2 separate regions of the Homo sapiens genome follow, and region 2 is linked to region 1. Evidence: fine-mapped expression QTL. Tissue or cell type: whole blood. Region 1 holds a variant in brackets; the other region holds the start of a gene. All regions are shown on one strand. Distances are from middle to middle.

The links. PIP is the estimated chance that this variant, and not a neighbour inherited with it, causes the effect.
Region 2: it holds the start of PIBF1, and the variant in region 1 is fine-mapped to the expression of PIBF1 in whole blood (TOPMed, PIP 0.97).

What each region holds. Positions count from the first base shown.
Region 1 is chr13:73,023,408-73,034,021 of GRCh38, forward strand. No RefSeq gene overlaps it. Among named protein-coding and RNA genes, the nearest start is that of KLF5, 30 kb to the right of the region's middle. The variant C/T (reference allele first, on the strand shown) is at 4,713.
Region 2 is chr13:72,776,069-72,785,476 of GRCh38, forward strand. PIBF1 (progesterone immunomodulatory binding factor 1) reads left to right here and starts at 6,065. Exons shown (of 18, transcript NM_006346.4): 1 at 6,065-6,281; 2 at 7,355-7,653. The coding sequence starts at 7,402. DIS3 (DIS3 exosome endoribonuclease and 3''-5'' exoribonuclease) reads right to left here and starts at 5,832. Exons shown (of 21, transcript NM_014953.5): 1 at 5,537-5,832; 2 at 4,778-4,935; 3 at 2,119-2,312; 4 at 1,352-1,425; 5 at 1-24. The coding sequence starts at 5,764. RefSeq lists enhancers at 5,024-5,938, 5,856-5,965 and a silencer at 5,526-5,575.

The DNA.
Region 1 (10,614 bases):
AAGTCACCATGTCCGGCACTTCCTTTATATTTAAGGAGGGCATCTATAGTTGAGAAAAAGTTTCCCAGATTTTTTTTTGTCACAAATAGAATGAAATGCAATGAATAGAACAGAATAAAAATGACTGTCTTCTTAACCCAGAAGCAATACAAAATATCCATGCACTTTTCTTCTAATAATGGAAATGCATACATATCCCTTGATAAGAAAAGAAAAAAAGTCTTAAGCTCTAAACATTTAAATTATTCAGTTCCACAGCTTATAATACAGCAGTTACGTTCCTTGTTGATAGCTTCATAAAAACTACTAAGTAGTTTCAAATGCATAGTAAAAGCACAATTTTATCTTAATTTTCTAAAATGTCCAGTCATGTAAAATAAAGAGATCAAAAACAGAGGAAAAAAATTTCATTACAATTTTTTCCTTCAAAAAAATCAAAACTTAATTCCAATAAATGAGAAGGAATGTTAGCTGACAAAAATGAAAAAAAAAAAAAATGGCTGGGAGCAGTGGCTCATGCCTGTAATCCCAGCACTTTGGGAGTCCGAGTGGGAAGATTGCTTGAGATCAGGAGTTTGAGACCAGCCTGGCCAACATGGCAAAACCCCATCTCTACTGAAAATATAAATAGTTCCAGCTACTTGGGAGGCTGAGGCAGGAGAATCACTTGAACCCAGAAGGCGGAGGCTGCAGTAAGCCAAGATGGTGCCACTGCACTCTAGCCTAGGTGATATAGGGAGAAAAAAAGAAAAGAAAAGAAAAGAAAAAGGGACATAATATTAACTTTGGGGCTGGTGTTTAGTTTGTGGGGATAGTTTCTGTCTCCTGAACCCTGGAGGGAAATGCAACAAATCTAAAAAGTAGTAGAATAACCCCAAAGGTGTGTTCATGAATGTTTAACCATCAGCTCCCAGGAAAAAAGACCCTGATTTTCATAGTGGGGCCTAGATTTTCATGGCAGGATGGAATGAATGAATACTCCCACTATGGCCAGCGTAGAGCTACCAAAATGGGGCTAGGAAGAGGTGCTTACACTCAGCTCACTGGGCTACACCATTCCAGCAAACACTGCCCAGGCCACAGGGTACAGGCCCTGCCTGATCCAAACCCAAACTTCTTTTGAGCTCCTCCATGGTATTCAGTGGCCTTTTTTGAATTCCTTAAACTCTTCCAGCTGTTTCTTTTCTCAGGCTCTTCACCACATTCTGCCTTCTCTACTTAGAATACTGCCTACCTAGAATACTAACCTCCCCTAAGTCCTCCTCATCCTCTAGATCTCAGGTTTCTGATATACACACACACAAAGCGAGAAAGCAGATCGCAATATAAGATGTTAGGGGTTTTTGGGGGTGTTTTGTTTTTGAGACAGGGTCTCACTCTGTTGCCCAGGCTGCAGTGCAGTGGTACAATTATGGCGCACTGCAACCTTAACCTCTGGGTCTCAAGCAATCCTCCCACTTCAGCCTTTCAAGTAGCTGGGATCACAGGTGCATGCCACCATGCCCAGCTAAGTTTTTGTTTGTTTTTGTAGAAACACGGCCTCATTATGATACCCAGGCTGGTCTCGAATTCCTAGACTCAAGTGATCCTCCCACCTCAGCCTCCCAAAGTGTTGAGCTAACAGGTGTGAGCCACCAAGCCCCATCTAAAATGTATTTCTTAACCAGATGCAGTGGCACACTTGTAGTCCCAGCTACTTGGGAGGCTGAGGCAGGAGAATTCCTTGAGCCCAGGAGTTCCAGCCTGCACAACATAGCAAGACCTCATCTCTATAAAAATAATTAAATAAAATAAAAGCATTTATTATAGTTCATGGCCAAAAACAAGCTTTTAAAGACCACTGCCCTAGACACTGCCAAGATATGCATTCTCCTCCAGACTTTGATTTTATGGATTTCAGATTGGCAATCCCCATCCACCTCTGTCATTACCACATTGTCTCACATGTGCTAATTTATTCTAGACCTGGAAGCCAGTGAACCTGCTTTCCTGATGACTACATACCTCTGCTCTAAACCAGGAAATGATGACTTCATAGTTTCACTCACAGAGGGTTGTTTTTCCCCAGTTCTTACATGTTATACGCAATACCTTCAAGCCTCATACCAGCAACACAAATTATATTTCATTTATTTCCAGTGTTGCTATTGTAACGTGATCTGGAGTAATCATTCAGTAATCATTCAGACTTCGAATACTTTAACATCCCTCTGAAAAAAGAATGTACTTAGGACATGAATCCATTGGTCAGAAAAAAAAAAAAAAGAAAAAAATGAAAGAAATTTTTAAAAAGAATGTACCTCATATCTCAACCAAGTCATTGAAATACAATTGAAATTCCATTTTAAAGCGTCATTAAAGTCATTCTAATCACCTTACAAACATTGTCTTTAAATAACAGGGTTTATTTATATCGTTGGTATTTATTTCCATTGACATCATTTTCAAGAAAGCACTATGAAATTCTCCAAGGCCATGTACTTTTCAGATACCTATTTCTCTTTCTCTCTTGCTCTTATCTCTCCTCTCTCCCTCTCTCTTTCTATTTTTGAAAAAGCTTTTTAAAATTTCTTTAATTAACAAATTGGTACCTGAATCAGAATAATGGATCTGTTTTTGTTTCCTCTTTAACTTTGTTACTTTATGTCATGTAATTATTGAATACTGAATATCTTTTCTATATCTAATCATGCTTTATCTTCTCTTTAACAACTATAGAACAATTAGAGGATCTAAAATTAAATTTTTATCCCCTAAACTTTCAAAGTTCACAGCATATGTAATTTTCTGAATGCCATCTGTTAGGGCTTTATTAAGCAAGTTGTTAATGTTATGTAGCAAACATGTAGCAGAAATGTCACTAACATTTTAAATTGTGCTCTAAAATATGTGTAGGCATTATAAACTAGTGATGTCTTCTTTCTCATTACTGTCCTCACTTATTTCTAATACTGCAATCAGAGTCGTAATGTGTCTCTTTTACTTTCAGTTCCTGCCATTTATTTCTGGTATGATCATCTTGATTTACTATTATTAGTATGATTGGGTCATTATCATTACCTGTTACTAGCACAGTTCCAGGAATGTACTATACACTCTATAAAATGTTAATTTCTTTCTTTTGGCATTTTCTAAAAATATATATATAGTCTATTTACATAGATATTCAAATGCTTATACATAAAGATATATTCAAAAGGCTCAGCCGGGCGCAGTGGCTCACACCTGTAATCCCAGCACTTTGGGAGGCCAAGGCGGGCGGATCACCTGAGGTCAGGAGTTCAAGACCAACCTGGCCAACACAGTGAAACCCCATCTCTACTAAAAATACAAAAATTACCTGGGCTTGGTGGCATGCGCCTATGGTCCCAGCTACTCAGGAGGCTGAGGCAGGAGAATTGCTTGAACCCGGGATGCAGAGGTTGCAGTGAGCCAAAATCACACCACTGCACTCCAGCCTCGGAGACGGAGCGAGACTCCATCACAAAAAAAAAAAAAAAAAGGTTGGGGGGGTGACGCTTTCATTAATACCAGAAGCTAGAGCAAAGAACAAAGCTATGATGCTAGGGACCTCAAATAAATAATGAAAACATTTATCTAATTCCTATTACCTTTGGTGACTAAAAGAAAGATAAAATGCTGTGTCCATTAGATCAAACTCTAGGAGAGCAAAGAACACGTCTGTGATATTGACTGCTGGTATCCTCAGAGCTTAGAACAACAAATATACACTACAAGATGGCCGAATCAATGAATCAGTGGGCAAGCAGGAACTGCAGCCAGGTCTTTACTTGTGCGGCACTGATGTCCACAGCTACGAATTTTTGTTAATCATAGAATTAATTGGTGTGTCCATCCAGTTAACCAAAATTAATTATATGGCCAAATACACCAGAAAATGTTTGTCCTTGTAGGATCTTTTCTTTATTTTTATGTTTTTAAATAGAGACAGGGTCTTGCTCCGTCACCCAGGCTGGAGTGCAGTAGTGCAGTCATGGCTCACTGCAGCCTTGAACTCCTGGGCTCAAGCAACCCTCCTGCCTTAAGCCTCCCAAGTAGCTAGGACTACAGGCCCATGCCACCACTCCCAGCTGATTTTTTTATTTTTTGTACAGACGGGTCTCACTATGTTGCCCAGGCTGGTCTCAAATTCCTGCCTTCATGGGATCCTCCTGCCTTGGCCTCCCAAAGGGCTGGGATTATAGGCATGAGCCACTCCACCCAGTCCATGTGGAATCTTTTATCTTTTTTACTTTTTTCATCTTCATTTTTTTTTAATAGAAACAGAGTCTCCCTATGTTGCCCAGGCTGGTCTTGAACTCCTGGGCTCAAGGGATCCTCCTGCCTTGGCCTCCTAAAGTGCCGGGATTACAGAAGTGAGCCACCACACCTGGCTCCATGTGGGGTCTTTAGTCACAGATTCTTTATGGGCCTGTTCTTTCAAAAAAAGTGTAATAAAATTTAGCATGTGAGTGTTCTAGCAAACAGTCATACAGATAGGTGAATTGAGCTTAAAATGTTTTTTGATTTTTTTTTTTTTTTTGAGATGGAGTCTCACTCTGTTACCAGGCTGGAGTGCAGTGTCGTGATCTCAGCTCACTGCAACCTCCGACTCCGTGGTTCAAGTAATCCTCCTGCCTCAGCCTCCCGAGTAGCTGGGACTACAGGCACGTGCCACCACGCCCAGCTAATTTTTGTATTTTTAGTAGAGA[C/T]GGAGTTTCACCATGTTGCCCAGGCTGGTCTCGAACTCCTGACCTCGTAATCAACCTGCCTCAGCCTCCCAAAGTGCTGGGATGACAGGTGTGAGCCACAGCACCCAGCCAAAAAAATTGATTCTTATTTGCTTTGGTTTCATACGATCAGGGGTAAATGGCCTTAGGCAGAAATATACAGAATTATAGAATGTTGGTATTATTTTTTTGTCATCTAAATAATCTTAAATTTGTTGGGGTTGTTGTTGTTGTTGTTGTTTGTTTGTTTGTTTGTTTTTTGAGATGGAGTCTCGCTCTGTCACCCAGGCTGGAGTGCAGTGGCACGATCTTGGCTCACTGCAACCTCTGCCTCCCAGGTTCAAGCGATTCTCCTGCCTCAGCCTCCCGAGTAGCTGGGATTACAGGTGCATGCCACCAGGCCTGGCCAATTTTTGTATTTTTAGTAGAGATGGGGTTTCACCATGTTGGCCAGTCTCATGTCAAGCTCCTGACCTCAAGTGATCTGCCCACCTCGGCCTCCCAAAGTGCTGAGATTACAGGCATCAGCCATCATGCCCGGCCCTAGATTTGTTTTTTAAATACCTCAATTGTATAATGTGTTCAATATGTAGATATATAATTTCTTAAATTAATATTCTGAGGCTTAGTGTTCAGCCTGTCTCCCTATACCTCCACATCACTCTATAGTCCATTTCTCTCTTTATTTTCTTTAGAGCAGTATCTGTAATTTTCTTCTTTCTTTTCTATTTGCTTATTGCCTATCCTATCTAAATAGAATATAATACATTCCATGAAAGCCAACAGTCTTATCTGTGTCGCTGCTGTATCCCCAGCACACAGAACAATTGACTCCCCTGTCAAATTTTGTTCAATGGTAGGAAGAAAGAAAGAAAAGAAGGGAAGTGACATTTACTTTTAATTTTTTTGTATTGAATTTTTGTTGGAAACAAATTTTAAAAACTAATTAGATCATCCTTTCTCCTCCCACATTACCCAGAAAAGCAAGGAAGGTCATTGTCTATCTCGTTATTGCTAGGCACTGAAACAGCTCAGTATCTTAACATATTTTTTCTCTGATCTCAGAAAACAACAAGTTTCTTCCTTCCAAGATTAGCCCCTTTGTGCTTGTTGCACTCTTTATATTGAGATGCACGAGCAGCAATGAGATGATCCCTGAAGAATGTGGACTGAGAAATGCAGGAGACCCAAGACAAAATCCCAACAGATACCAACAGCTGAGGAAAGGACAAAAGAGAAAACACAGAAAGGAGACCCTCCTTCACTCTCATGTACCCATTACAACCTGGTTCCTTCCTCAATTACTGAAGTAAAACTATCTCCCAAAGCGCGCTGGCTCCACCTGCTACGACTGAGTCCCTAAGCCTTTGTCTCTCTCTTCTTCCAGTGTAAATGCTCTTTTCCCTCAGCCCTTCCCGTAAAGTCATTCTTCAGTGTTCAGCTGAGTCCCATGTTTTGTCTTGTTTTTCTCTACTCTTCTTTGAGATAGAAAGTATTAGAGGGAAAGCCAGGCACGGTGGCTCATGCCTGTAATCCCAGTGCTTTGGGAGGCCTAGGTCGGAGGATCTCTTGAGGCCAGGAGTTTGAGGCCAGCCTGGGCAATGTAGCAAGACCCCATCTCTACAAAAAATTTTAAAAATTAGCCAGATTTGGTGGTGTGTGCATGTAGTCTCAGATACTTGGGAGGCTGAGGGGAGAGGATTGCTTGAGCCAGGTGGTAGAGGATGCAGTGAGCTATGATCCTATGACTGCACTCCAGCCTGGGCAACAGAGGGAAACCTTGTCTCTAAAAAGGAAAAGAAAAGAGAAAAGAAGAGGAGAAGGGAAGGGAAGGGGAAGGAGAAGTGGGAAAGAGAAAAGAAAGAAAGGAAAAGGTGCAGCAAGCCGGTATGGCACGTGTATACGTATGCAACAAACCTGCACGTTCTGCACATGGATCCCAGAACTTCAGTAAAGTTTTTATTTTACTTAAAGTAAAATTAAAAAAAAAAAAATAGAAAGAAAGGAAAAAAATATTAGAGGGAAATAAATGTGTCCTCTCTCCCCTGCCCCCAAACTCTACCTGTTTTCCATAAGGGTGGATTTTTCCACATATTCCTGCCTCTTTCTGTCTCCTGACTGTCTGATTGCTACATTTCCTTTGAGGGACTGACTTGTGTAGTTCTTCTTTTTCCTGTCCGTTTTTCTCTACAAAAGAACCAGCCACCAGCCTAGTCTATTCCTGGGGCAGTTCTTTGTTCCCCATGTTGCAGGTCTTCATCGTCCCATGTGACTGGTGGGTAAGTCGAGGACACAGTGGGGGTGGGAGTGGGGATGCTTCAAGCCCATTTGGCCTTCACAATAAACTATGACTTCCAACATTTTAAATTTAAAAGTAATATTTTAAATCTCTCTTTTGTCTTCCACTGCCTGAAAAGAGAGGTGCTATTTATTGAACTCTTGACATCTCTACAACAGTAAACATAATTTGAAAAAAATGAAATCTCTATACTGGGTCTCTGTCCCCCAGGCTGGAGTACAGTGGTGTGATCATGGCTCACTGTGGCCTCCAGCTCCTCAGCTCAAGCCATTCTCCTGCTTCAGCCTCCCAAGTAGCTGGGACTACAGGCATAAGCCACCATGCCTGGCTAATTTGTTTTTTTTTTGTTTTTTTTTTTTGTTTTTTTTTGTTTGTTTTGTTTTTTTGCGGGGCTGGGGTCTCACTGTGTTGCCTAGGCTGGTCTTGAACTCCTGGGCTTAAGCAATCTTCCTACCTCAGCCTCCCAAAGTGCTGGGATTATAAACATGAGCCACCTCGCCTGTCCTCATATCTTGATTTATTGTAATATGTTCTTTTCACCCTTCCTTTTCTCAAGATACCTGTCTAGTCTCTGTTCAAACATACTGTTCCTCCCAAGAGTCAGTAAAGACTAATTTATGTAACCAAAAAGTCTCCATCAGTTTGGAAAAACAGGTATCAATAAATTCTAATTGTTGTACAACTGTATTTTTTAATTTTGTTTTTTCTTTTCCTTTTTTTTTTTTTTTTTTTTTTGAGACAGAGTCTCACTCTGTTTCCCAGGCTGTAGTGCACTGGCATGATCTCGGCTCACTGCAGCCTCAACTTCCTGGGTTCAAGTGATCCTCCTGCCTCAGCCTCCAAGGAGCTGAGACCACAAGCACGAACCACCACACCCAGCTATTTTTTTGGTATCTTTTAGTAGAGACAGCATCTCACCATGTTGCCCAAGCTTAACTGTATTTTTTTTTTAAGATTTAAGTGATGAAAGTATTTTTCTGAATGAATGAGAGATTAATCCATCAATTACTGTCATGCGTTTTCTTTTCTTTTTTCTTTTGAGACGCAGTTTTGCTCTTGTTGCCCAGGTTGGAGTGCAATGGCACAATCTTGGCTCACCACAACCTCCGCCTCCCGGGTTCAAGTGATTTTCCTGCCTCAGCCTCTGGAGTAGCTGGGATTACAGCTGCCCGCCACCACACCCAGCTAATTTTTTTGTATTTTTAGTAGAGATGGGGTTTCACCATATTGGCCAGGCTGGTCTTGAACTCCTGACCTCAGGTGATTCACCCACCTCGGCCTCCCAAAGTGCTGGGATTACAGGCATGAGCCACCGTGCCCGGCTGTCATGCATTTTCATGAATGATTTGCAAATCTTCCTCTGTAGCCTTTACAATCCCTGAAGTCTCTCCTACCTCAGTTCCTGTGTTACTCATTGTTTACAGAATATTTCCTCTTAACTTTTTTCATTGCTCTACTGCCCTACATATTTTTTAATGTTTTTTTAAACATTTTTTATTGTTATTTTTATTGTTATTTTTATTTTTTTGAGACCAAGTCTCACTCTGTCACCCAGGCTGGAGTGCGGTGGCACGATCTTGGCTCACTGCAACCTCTGCCTCCTGGCTTGAAGCTATTCTCCTGCCTCAGCCTCCCGAGTAGCTGGGATTACAGGCACCCACCACCACACCCAGCTGATTTTTGTATTTTTAGTAGAAACAGGGTTTCACCATGTTGGCCAGGCTTGTCTTGAACTCCCGACCTCAGGTGATCTGCCCACTTCGGCCTCCCAAAGTGCTGAGATTACAGGTGTGAGCCAGCTAACTTTTTTTTTAAAAGAGTGATGGGAGTCTCACTATTCTTCCCAGGGTGGACTTGAACTCCTGGGATCAAGAGATCCTCCTGCCTCAGCCTCCGAGTATCTGGGACTGTAGGTGGGGCCCCCTAAAAACTTTTTTTTATTTTGAGACAGGGTCTTACTCTGTTGCCGAGGCTGGAGTACAGTGGCGTGATCATGGCTCACTGCAGCCTCAACTTCCTGGGCTTAAGTGATCCTCTCGCCTCAGACTCCCAACAAGCTGGGACTATAGGCATGTGCCACCACATCTGGCTAATTTTTTTTTTTTTTAGTAAAAACAGGGTCTCACCATGTTGCCCAGCCTGGTCTAAGTCCTGGGCTCAAACAGTCCTCCCACCTCAGTCTCCCGAGTAGCTGGAACCACAAGTACATGCCACCATGCCAGCTAATTTTTTAAGTTTTTTGTAGAGACGAGGTCTTACTACGTTGTCCAGGCTGGTAATAAACTCCTCGGCTCAAGCGATCCTCCTACCTTGGCCTCCCAAAGTGTTGGGATTACCGGCATGAGCCACAGAGCCCAGCCTAGAAACTTCTAATTTTGACTTAATATCAGAGTTACAAAAAAGTTGCAAGAATCATGCAAATAATTACCATTTGCTCTTTACTGAGATTCTCCAAATATTTGCATTGTATCACTTTATCCTTTTCCTTGTCTCTTTTGTTTATTCCCCTGAGCCTTTTAAGAGTACTTTGCAGATACGATTTTGCTTTACTGATAATGTTTCATGAGCATTTCCTAAGAATAAGAACATTCTTTTACATAAGCATAGTACAATGATCAAAATCAGGAAATTAACATTGATACAATACTATTATCTAATCTAAAGATGTTATTGAGATTTCCCCAGTTGCCCTAATATGCCCTCTGTTGAGAAGTCAATCTCAGATTACTCATTGCATTCAGTGGTCATGCCTCTTATACCTTCTTTAATCTAGAATAGTTCTTCAATCTGTCTTTTATAACACTGATATTTTTGGAGTACATGTCAGTTATTTTGTGGACTATCCATCAGCTAAGTATTCCTTTGATCCTATATCCATTGGCATTAATGTGTCTCTAGAAGCTATGGTGATTAAAAGTAATCCCTTTTCTGTGTCTTCATATTTCCAGTTTTACATTCCAGCACCACCTCTTACTACATGTGTGACCACTTAACCTCTCTAAGCCATAGTTACTCATCTTTAAAATTCAAAGAATTAGGCTAGACTTTGTGGGTCACGACTGTAATTCCAACACCTTGCAGGGCTGAGACAGGAGGATCCCTTGAGCCCAGGATTTGAAGACCAGCCTGAGCAAACACAGTAAGACCCTGTCTCTATTAAAAAATTAAAATTAGCCAGGTGTGGTGGTGTACTCCTATAATCCCAGCTACACGGAAGGCTGAGGTCAGAGGATGGCTTGAGCCTAGGAGTTGGAGGCTGTAGTGAGCTGTGATTGGGTCACTGCACTCCAGGCAGGGTGCCAGAACCCATTCTGTCTTGGGGGGAGGGGAGGAAAATTGTAATAATTGTACCTGCCTAATAGGTTATAGAGAGCATTAAAGGCAGAGACATATGAAAGAAGTTATCCAGCCGGGCTTGGTGGCTCACACCTGTAACCCCAGTACTTTGGGAGGCCGAGCCGGGTGGATCACGAGGTCAGGAGATCAAGACCATCCTGGCTAAACCTGTCTCTACTAAAAAATACAAAAAATTAGCCGGGCATGTTGGCACACGCCTGTAATCCCAGCTACTTGGGAGGCTGAGGC
Region 2 (9,408 bases), 250 kb before region 1:
TATTTTTCCACTTTCTATTTCATTCTATGAAAGAAGCAAACCAAAAGATGCCGCTAATAAGTCTTCTGTTCACTCAATACACAACTATTATTAATATCAGAGAATTTTTGAAATCTACATTATGATATACACAACTCTGAATAGGAGAGAAGATAGCAGTGTTTCTTATAGGCCAGTGCTAACAAAAACAGCTTTCTATGATGAAGGAAGTATTCATTTTGCGATCTCTAATATGGTAGCCACTAGACACAAGTTTCTCTTGGGCACTTGAAAGACAGATAGTACCACCAAGAAACTGAATTTTTAATACATATTAAATTTAAATAGTCATATATAACTAAGTGGCTACATATTAGGGCAATACTAAATCTGTATTTCAAAAATCAAACCCAACTTTTATCTTCTCATTTCCTTTTGGTTTCATAAAGTATCATAAAGGTAAGAAGGGATGACAGAAGTGTAAAGACTGGATTTATGTATAATGTCCTATCACTTAAAACCTATTTCTATAACAAGGGCTACCATTTATATTTACCATACCTATGTGCCAGGCACTAGGATGAAAATTGTATTAATGCTACAGTTATCATCTTATTTGATCCTTATAACAACACTATGAAGTTATTATTGCTAAACATTATATATTTATATATAAGAAAATGAATGCTCAGAATTTAATTATTCCCTTAGCACTCCTTCTCACATCAGCTATTGTAATGACTCCTTTACTCACCTCTCTGCCTCTAATCTTTCCTGGATAAAATGCTTAATGTTACACACTGACATGAGAGTGGTCTTACAAACAAATACCATTTCCAATCATTCTCTCCTGCTCCACCAATCCACATTCATATACCATTACTTTTTCTTAGCCTGACATATAAGGAAGGGATCTCAGAATCCTTTCCTCTTCATAGCAGCCCTTCAGGGAGATCTTTATAAATCAATTGAAAAATTACTAACCTACAGAATAAGTTCTAGGTCTTTACTATCTGGACACTCCCCTCCCTCTTCTTTCCTCTGTCTGCAGTGCCTGCCACTTCATTTGTCAGCAGCTACTCTTTATTCACAAATCAGCCATGGACTCCGTTCATTTTTTCCTCAACCAAACAGTGCTACCAGGTACCAGGCCCTACTCAGGTTAATGGGAATATATCTATTTTAGAAAGTTAACTCCTTTAGGAATGGCATTTCAATAAGCCTATGACATCCACTCCTGTTTATAACACAACTATTCCAAATCCAGCTTACCCACCGACATTCCAATTTTTAAATTTGGTAACTATATGCCTAATATTCCAAAGTGGCTATTTTAATATTTTTACTTTTCAAAAACAAAACAAAAACATACCCCTTCTTCAGACAAACAAGCAAGACGATCTATGAGTTCGGGGTTAGCAGTTAGGCTCTTTACATATTCTTCACCTGAAAAAATAAGTTTATGTTGTTTTTGATAAGTGTTTTTTCCTTAGATATGAAAAAAATGGATAGTCTTGTTTGCGACAGTATACACGTCATTCTTTCATTCATTGAGACACACTGAGAGTCTCACTCTGTCTCTCAGGCTGGAGTGCAGCGGCGCAATTACACATCACTACAGCCTAGAATCCCTGGGCTCAAGCTACCTTCCTGCCTTAGCCTCCCGAGTAGCTGGGACTATAGTTACATACTACCATGCACGGCTTTTTTTTTTTTTCCTGTAGAGCTATAGTCTCCCTATGTTGCCCAGGCTGGTCCTGAACTCCTGGTCTCAAGCAAGCCTCTTGCCCTGACCTCCCAAAGTGCTGGGATTACAGCACCTGGCCTCAATTTATTTAAAAAACAAAACCCAAAAATCTGTTGATGTGATCATACCTAAGCAGAAGCAGGGGTTCCAGTATATTTATGAGATTTCATTGCTAAACCAGTTGCAAATAGTGAGGGGAAAATTAACAGCCACTGGGCACAACATATTTAGGTTAAAAACTATGTGAAATTTAAAAATACAAAAATATCACATGAAGTTATATAGGACTACGAAAATACTAAATAGTAAAGTGAACATCTGACTATAGGCCTAATGATTATTTTTACACGCATTTGCAAACATGCACTAAGTACTTCTACATTTAGACTTACAAGTGAAAGCTGGTATTCCTTCTTCTATGGCTTTCTCTTTGTTTCTCCTGTCATTTGTTATGAAGATAACTTGCAGCTGGTTGTCTGCTGACATTTTTTTCAAATGTTCATTGTACCATTTTGCTGCTACTCGAATCGCTCTATCATTCCTGTCATTAGCATTTTCTCCCTGTTCTTGTTCTACATAGGTTTCTCTAAATGGAAAGAAAAAACGAAATAAAAGGAAATCAGTAGAAACAAGGATATGTGAAAACTCTTAGCACATAAATGCTTAACCACTAAACTAGAAAAAGTCAATGGTATATCTTTTCTCTTGAATGTATTCAGATGTACACCTCAGAGAAGAAATCAAGATTCTTATAATTAAGTTTTTAAGAAACAATTTGCTTGGAAAAGAAGAAAATTATGTTATTAAGGGGACAAGAAAAAGGCTAATACAATTTTATTTCCTAAAAAGAAAAATTCAAGATCAGAATTTATACTTTAGGTTGAGACACTAAATAATAGTTTGTTGACAAATTATAATACAATTTCACAGGTATGATAATCAGATTTCATTCAAACTGTAGGTTAATAGCAATTCCTAAAAGCTACAAATAGTATAATTAGATCATTTATAATCAGAATTCTACAGTCATTAATAAATAATGCATATAAATTATCCATGGTAAACACTAATAGCTGAAGCTATGTAGAGACTGAAAAGTCAGGTATATTAATAGATATTACGTATTTCTTCTATCTAAACTCCCAAGTATGTCAACACATTCATCTATTTCTTTAAATCTGTTCATCAAAGCCAGGTTTAAGTACAACAGCAAAGTTCACTACAATAGCTTCCAGTACTTAATGGTAATAGATTCAATTTAATAATTTGATTTATATTAATAGTTTTAGAATTATTTTATTCCTCATCGTTGAATGCACTTGCTAATGCTTTTTTTTTTTTTTTGAAACAGAGTCTTGCTCTGTAGCTCAGGCTGGAGTGCAGTGGCATGATCTCAGCTTACTGCAACCTCTACCTCCGGGTTCAAGTGATCCTCCCAACTCAGCCTCGCAAGTAGCTGGGACTAGAGGCATGTACCACCATAACCAGCTAATTTTTGTATTTTTAAGAGACAGGGATTTTCCAGGTTGGCTAAGCTGGTCTGGAACTCCTGGCCTCAAGTGATCTGCCCACCTCAACCTCCCAAAGTGCCAGGATTACAGACATAAGCCACCACGCCCAGCTGCTAATGTTTTAAGCTCATCAGTGAAAGACACAGTCATAAATTTTTGAATTGGTTTTAAACTTGGGTCTTTCTGCACTGAAAAACAAGTGATGTTGCTATTTCTGGATTTCAAGGAGGTACTAACAATAAGAAGCCTACAAGGGCTTTACTGGTATTCTTTACAAGAACATTGAAGTTTGAGATATAAGAATCAAGAAAGTTGAGATATTAAGGTTTTTAAAAATGTGCATAATCTGATGGAATTTCATTACCAGAAGTCTACACTCTAATCCAATGGTTCTCAATTGAGTGAATTCACCCCTCAGGGCATTTTGTATCATTACAACTGAGTGGTGGTGGTGGTGGTGGTGGTGGGGGGGGTAAGGGGTGGTGATCCTGCCAAATAGGCTAGGAACACTGTTAAACATACTACAATGTATAAAACAGCCTTTCCACCACAAAAAAATTATTCAGTTCAAAATATCTATAATGCCAAGATTGAGAAGCCCTGATCTAATCCAATAAAAGTACCATACTCATCATAGATTATTTATGTAATATAACGTAATAGGCAATATCATATTTTTGAGACCACACACTGAGTTCAAAGGTCTTGAATCTAAAAGCACAACAAAGAATTATATTCCTGGCCAGGCACGGTAGCTCATGCCTGTAATCCCACCACTTTGAGAGGCTGAGGCAGGTGGATCACGAGGTCAGGAATTCGAGACCAGCCTGACCAACATGGTGAAACCCTGTCTCTACTAAAAATACAAAAATTAGCCTGGCATAGTGGTGCGTGACTGTAATCCCAGCTACTCAGGAGGCTGAGGCAGAAGAATCGCTTGAACTTGGGAGGTGGAGGTTGCAGTGAGCAGAGATCACACCACTGCACTCCAGCCTGGGTGACAGAGTGAGACTCCATCTCAAAAAAAAAAAAAAAAAAAAAAAAAGAATTCTATTCCTTAACCTAATCTTGCTCAATGTAATCAGCTGCAAAGTATTAAACTTTTAAAAAGACCATTAAGAATAAATCTACTTTCTATTTTTAAACAAAATAGAAACTTCACAAACTCATATATTTTATTACCCTCTGTTAGTTGTTCACATAATATGGTATTCCAGGAACTTAAGCAAATCTCATCTTCCAAGATTCTATGGTCCAACTCATGCTAAAACCAATTCAAAATGAAAACATTTTGGAAATTAAAGTACCTATTGTAGTCTAGGAGTCAGCAGACCTTGGTTTTAGGCTTGAGCCCATCAATGCCTGTGTGACCTTAGAGAGATCCACTTAGCATTATCTTCTGCACAGCCATGTAAGAATTAAATAAGGTATGAAATCTATCACTTATCTTCTGACAATGTCATAAATTACTCACAGGAACCCTCTCCCGAATTTTGCTAATCCTGTGGTTTTCTGATATTTAACGTAATATTCCTCCTACCTATGGTGCTCATTAGTGAAAGTATAGAAATGCTTCTCTTGGTTATTAGTCACATCTCGGATGCGTTTATATACGGGGGCACTGCGATTTCTCACTTCTTGAAGAACTGTTTGTAGCACAATTACATTCCTGATGGCAGGGTCCTCAAGAACATCAATCTTAAAGAAAGATAAAGTTAATTTTTCCTATATTCATTTGTAAATAGCTCTGTCAAACATAAAATCCTGTTTTATGTTGGGCATAAATACTTTATGTTTTAAAAACACTGAATAAGTTAAGCCAAGAAGCTATTTGGCTATAGAAAACGAGACAATAGTCACTAAACCCTTCAGATCTATTAAAAAAAGCACACTTAAACAGACCAATCACAAGACTTCGTAGAATTAAGGGTATTAATAAAGGAATACGTTGGCCCACATAGTTTTTTGTTCCTAGGCACTTACAAGCTGCCTGGGAGTCGCAGGCTGGAGGCCACAGAAGCCCAGGTCCCCGGCCTCCAGGCACTTACAATCTAAGGCAGAAGAGACACCAGGAGTTAGAAAAATAACGTGTCTGAACTACGACTCCAAGAACTAAATTTTTTAAAGCACAAGGAAAAGAACCTCGGCCTGGGGAACAGGAAGCTTCGGTCCCGAGGGGGTTTCCCTTTCGCTAGGTATGTGACACTGCCAAAGACCCGCCTCCCTGGGCCTCAGTTTCCCTGTCATACCCCCTTGTCCCCGTGGGGCCGCGCTGTCCGCGGTTCGCCCGCCCACGCACCTGGTGCAGTAACACATTAGTGTCGGGCAGCAAGTAGTGCGGTTGCGGGCAGACGCTGCTCGCCGGGTCCTGGGGCTGCGGCTCCAGGGCCGGCCCCTCGTGCGCCCCTCCACACGCTGCGCACCCGGGCGCACCGCAGCCGATGTCGTCTCGCAGGTAGTGCTCGCGCACGATCTTCATCACGCCGCCCGCCCGGGTCTTTTTTAAGAACGTCTTGGACTTGAGCATCTTGCCTCGCCGCGCAGAATCCTAACCCCAGCAGCGCTCTTCCAGCAAAAGGCGTCAATCTAGAATACGCCTAACCCCGGAGGTTCTTCCCTTTCCATTCCCGGATATTAGTAACACTTCTCGCGGGAAAATGCCGAGATAAACATTGGTTGGCTCTCTGACGGCCGCGGGGATTGGGCGAGAGTGGGGAGGGGCGGCAAAGCAAGGCGAGGAGCCATTTCCGCCCGTGGCCTAGGCGGGGCTTCCTTCTGGACGCCACCTCACAACGTGTGTTGCTTTCCGCTCCTCGGAACATCCGGGAGAGTTGACTTCCGGCGGCTTGTGGGAGTGCTGGTTCTGTCCTCCTTGCGGGTGCGGAGATGGTTGTCTTGGTTACGGGTCCTAACGGTCCCCTGCCTTGAAATCCCTTGTTGAGGGCCTGCAACCTTGTGCTTCCGACCGGAGACGCCTTTGGTCCCTCGGTGTCTGCACTGGCTGCTGGTCAAGGCTTCAGTGTGGAGTAATTGACACTTTCGAGGTAACTTGCGACTATCATCGCTTTCTTTCCCGCGTGGGGCAAGGAATCCCCCGAGCTGCCAAGTTTGGGGCTTAATTTTCACGCCGAGTGTATAGGCAGTCCCCGTCTCGGGCCCTTTGTAATCGAGGAGAGAATTTGTCTTTGAATTCACTTTTTCTTACCTATTTCCCTTCAAAAAGAAGGAGGGAGGCCGATCTTAGTATAGTTCTCGCTGTTTCCCCTCCACACACCTTTCCTTATCATTCAGTTTAGAAAAACTGAAATATTTAATAGCATAATTTGTTATATCATGAGGTATTAAAACAAGGTAGTTGCTAACATTCTTATGAGAGAGTTAGAAGTAAGTTCTATTTAGAATTTCTTGAATTTTTCTTATATCCTGTTGTTTTCATTCTGCTATCTATAAAAAATGTTTTTGTCCCCGTTTTCCCTATTTAAAACATCTTCAATGATGCCTCATTGCCTGTAGAATAAAATCCAACCCTATTTTGACATTTAAGGCCTTCCAGTCTTGATCGTTAAGGGCGTGTGTGTGTGTGTGTGTGTGTGTGTGTGTGTTTGTGTTTGTGTTGGGGGGGCGGTGAAAGGAGTAACTATTCCAAGACTTGGCTTTGTTTTTTTACTTCCACTTACGTATCATTAATAACTGCATGATTTCTCCTTTTTACCATGCCTGTCCAAATCTTTAAAGATTCTAAGTGCTACCTCTGTGTAACGTTTCCCTGACCAACTCAGACGTGATTTCTGTTATCTTTGAGCATGTGTTGGTTTTAGTGGTGCCATTCTTGATTATAATGGGCTTTTTTCTTCATCTTGTACATTTCTTTGTTTCCTCCAAGTAAGATTCCTCCCCGCAGGAACTGTTTTTTTAAGTTTCTCGAAGGCTGACTTCATATTAGGAATTAATGTGTTTGATTTGAGCATTAACTTAACTGCAATAATCTGTTCTAGATTTGGGATGCACTAAATTGCCTAATATTTATTTAAGGAATCCTTAGTCTCTCTTTAATACAGTCCATGATTTCTGTAGTTAATTTTATAGTACATTTGAATTAATGTTTTTTAACCTACAGAATATTAAAATCAAATTAGAGAAGAAAACTGATCCATAATAATAAAAATGTCTCGAAAAATTTCAAAGGAGTCAAAAAAAGTGAACATCTCTAGTTCTCTGGAATCTGAAGATATTAGTTTAGAAACAACAGTTCCTACGGATGATATTTCCTCATCAGAAGAGCGAGAGGGCAAAGTCAGAATCACCAGGCAGCTAATTGAACGAAAAGAACTACTTCATAATATTCAGTTACTAAAAATTGAGCTATCCCAGAAAACTATGATGATCGACAATTTGAAAGTGGATTATCTTACAAAGGTAAGATCAGGTTTAAATTTTGTGTTCTATATGCTTTATTGTCTTCAAACGGCAGGTAAATAAGAATTAAATACACACATTATCTGAACTTGAAATGATACATTTATATTTCTTGACAAGTACAGCCTTTAAATAATTTTGGTGTTCATAGAAGTAGAGAATAGAATGGTGGTTACCAAGGGCTGGCATGGTTAGGGGTGAAGGAGGGTTGGGGAGATGTTGGTCAAAGGATACATAATTACAGTTGAATAGGAGGAATACATTCAAGAGATCTATTGGACAGCATGGTGGCTATAGTTAATGACATTGTAATCTTGGAAAACATTGTGTTTTTGAAAAACACAGCAGATGTTAAGTGTTCTCATTACTAAAATAACTATGTGAGGTAAAACATTTTTTAATTAGCTAGAGTTAACCATTTCACAATGTACGTATACTTCAAAACATTATGTTGTACATGACATATACACACAGTTTTATCTGTCAGTTGGGATCACCTGAGGTCAGGAGTTTGAGACCAACCTGGCCAACATTGTGAAACCCCAGCTCTACTTAAAAAAAAAAAAAAAAAAAAATTAGCCAGCCATGATGGTGGGTGCCTGTAATCCCAGCTGCTCGGGAGGCTGAGGCAGGAGAATTGCTTGAACCCAGGAGGCAGAGTTTGCAGTGAGCCACAATCGTGCCACTGCACTCCAGCCTGGGCAACACAGCAAGACTCTCAAAAACTAGTAATAATAATAATAATAATAATTGGAGGCCAAGTGCGGTGGCTCACACCTGTAATTCCAGCACTTTGGATGCTGAGGCCAGTGGATTGCTCCAAGCTCAGGAGTTCGAGACTACCCTGAGCAACATGGTGAGACCACCCTTGCTACTAAAAAAATAAAATAGCCCCGCGTAGTGGTGCTGCGCCTGCAGGCCCAGCTACTTCCGAGGCTGAGGCGGGAGAATCACTTGAATCCGGGGGCAGACATTGCAGTGAGCTGAGATCGTACCACTGCACTCCAGCCTGGGTAACAGAGTGAGACCCTATCTCAAAAAAATAATAATAATAATTTAAGTATTGAAATATGGAGTGATTTAAACGTAGATATGGATAAATTACTTTTGTAGGCTCAATTTAAAAAATCTAACATATGAGGTATTTTGTTGTTTTTTGTTGTTGTTGTTGGAGACAGTCTTGCTCTGTCACCCAGGCTGGAGTTCAGTGGCACAATCTTGGCTCACTGCAACCTCCACCTCTTGGGTTCAAGCAATTCTCCTGCCTCAGTCTCCCACGTAGCTGGGATTACAAGTGCTCCCCACCATGCCCAGCTAGCTCTCTGGGATCACTTTTATAAGGGCACCAATCCCAACAGTGAGGGTTCTACCCTTATAACCTAATCACCCCAAAGGCCCCAACTTCCTGCTACTCACATTGGTGATTAGGTTTCAATATACAAATTTTGAGGGGAGAAAAAAAAATAAGCACACAAGACGTATTAGCCGTTGTTGTTTTCAACTAACATAGCATCCTTATCTGTTTCATCCCTTTCATTTTCTGTGCCTTTTATGGCCATCGGACTGAATTTGTTTGTTATTTGTCTGTGAATAGACTATGAGGTCCATGAGGACGGGGATGTTTTTGTATTCATGGTTGTATTTCCAGCACTTAGAACGGTGCCTGACACAAATTAAGTGCCCAGCTATTTCTTAAATGAATGACTGAACCCCATTTTGCTCTGATTAAACAAAGCCACTAGGTGGTTAATAGCA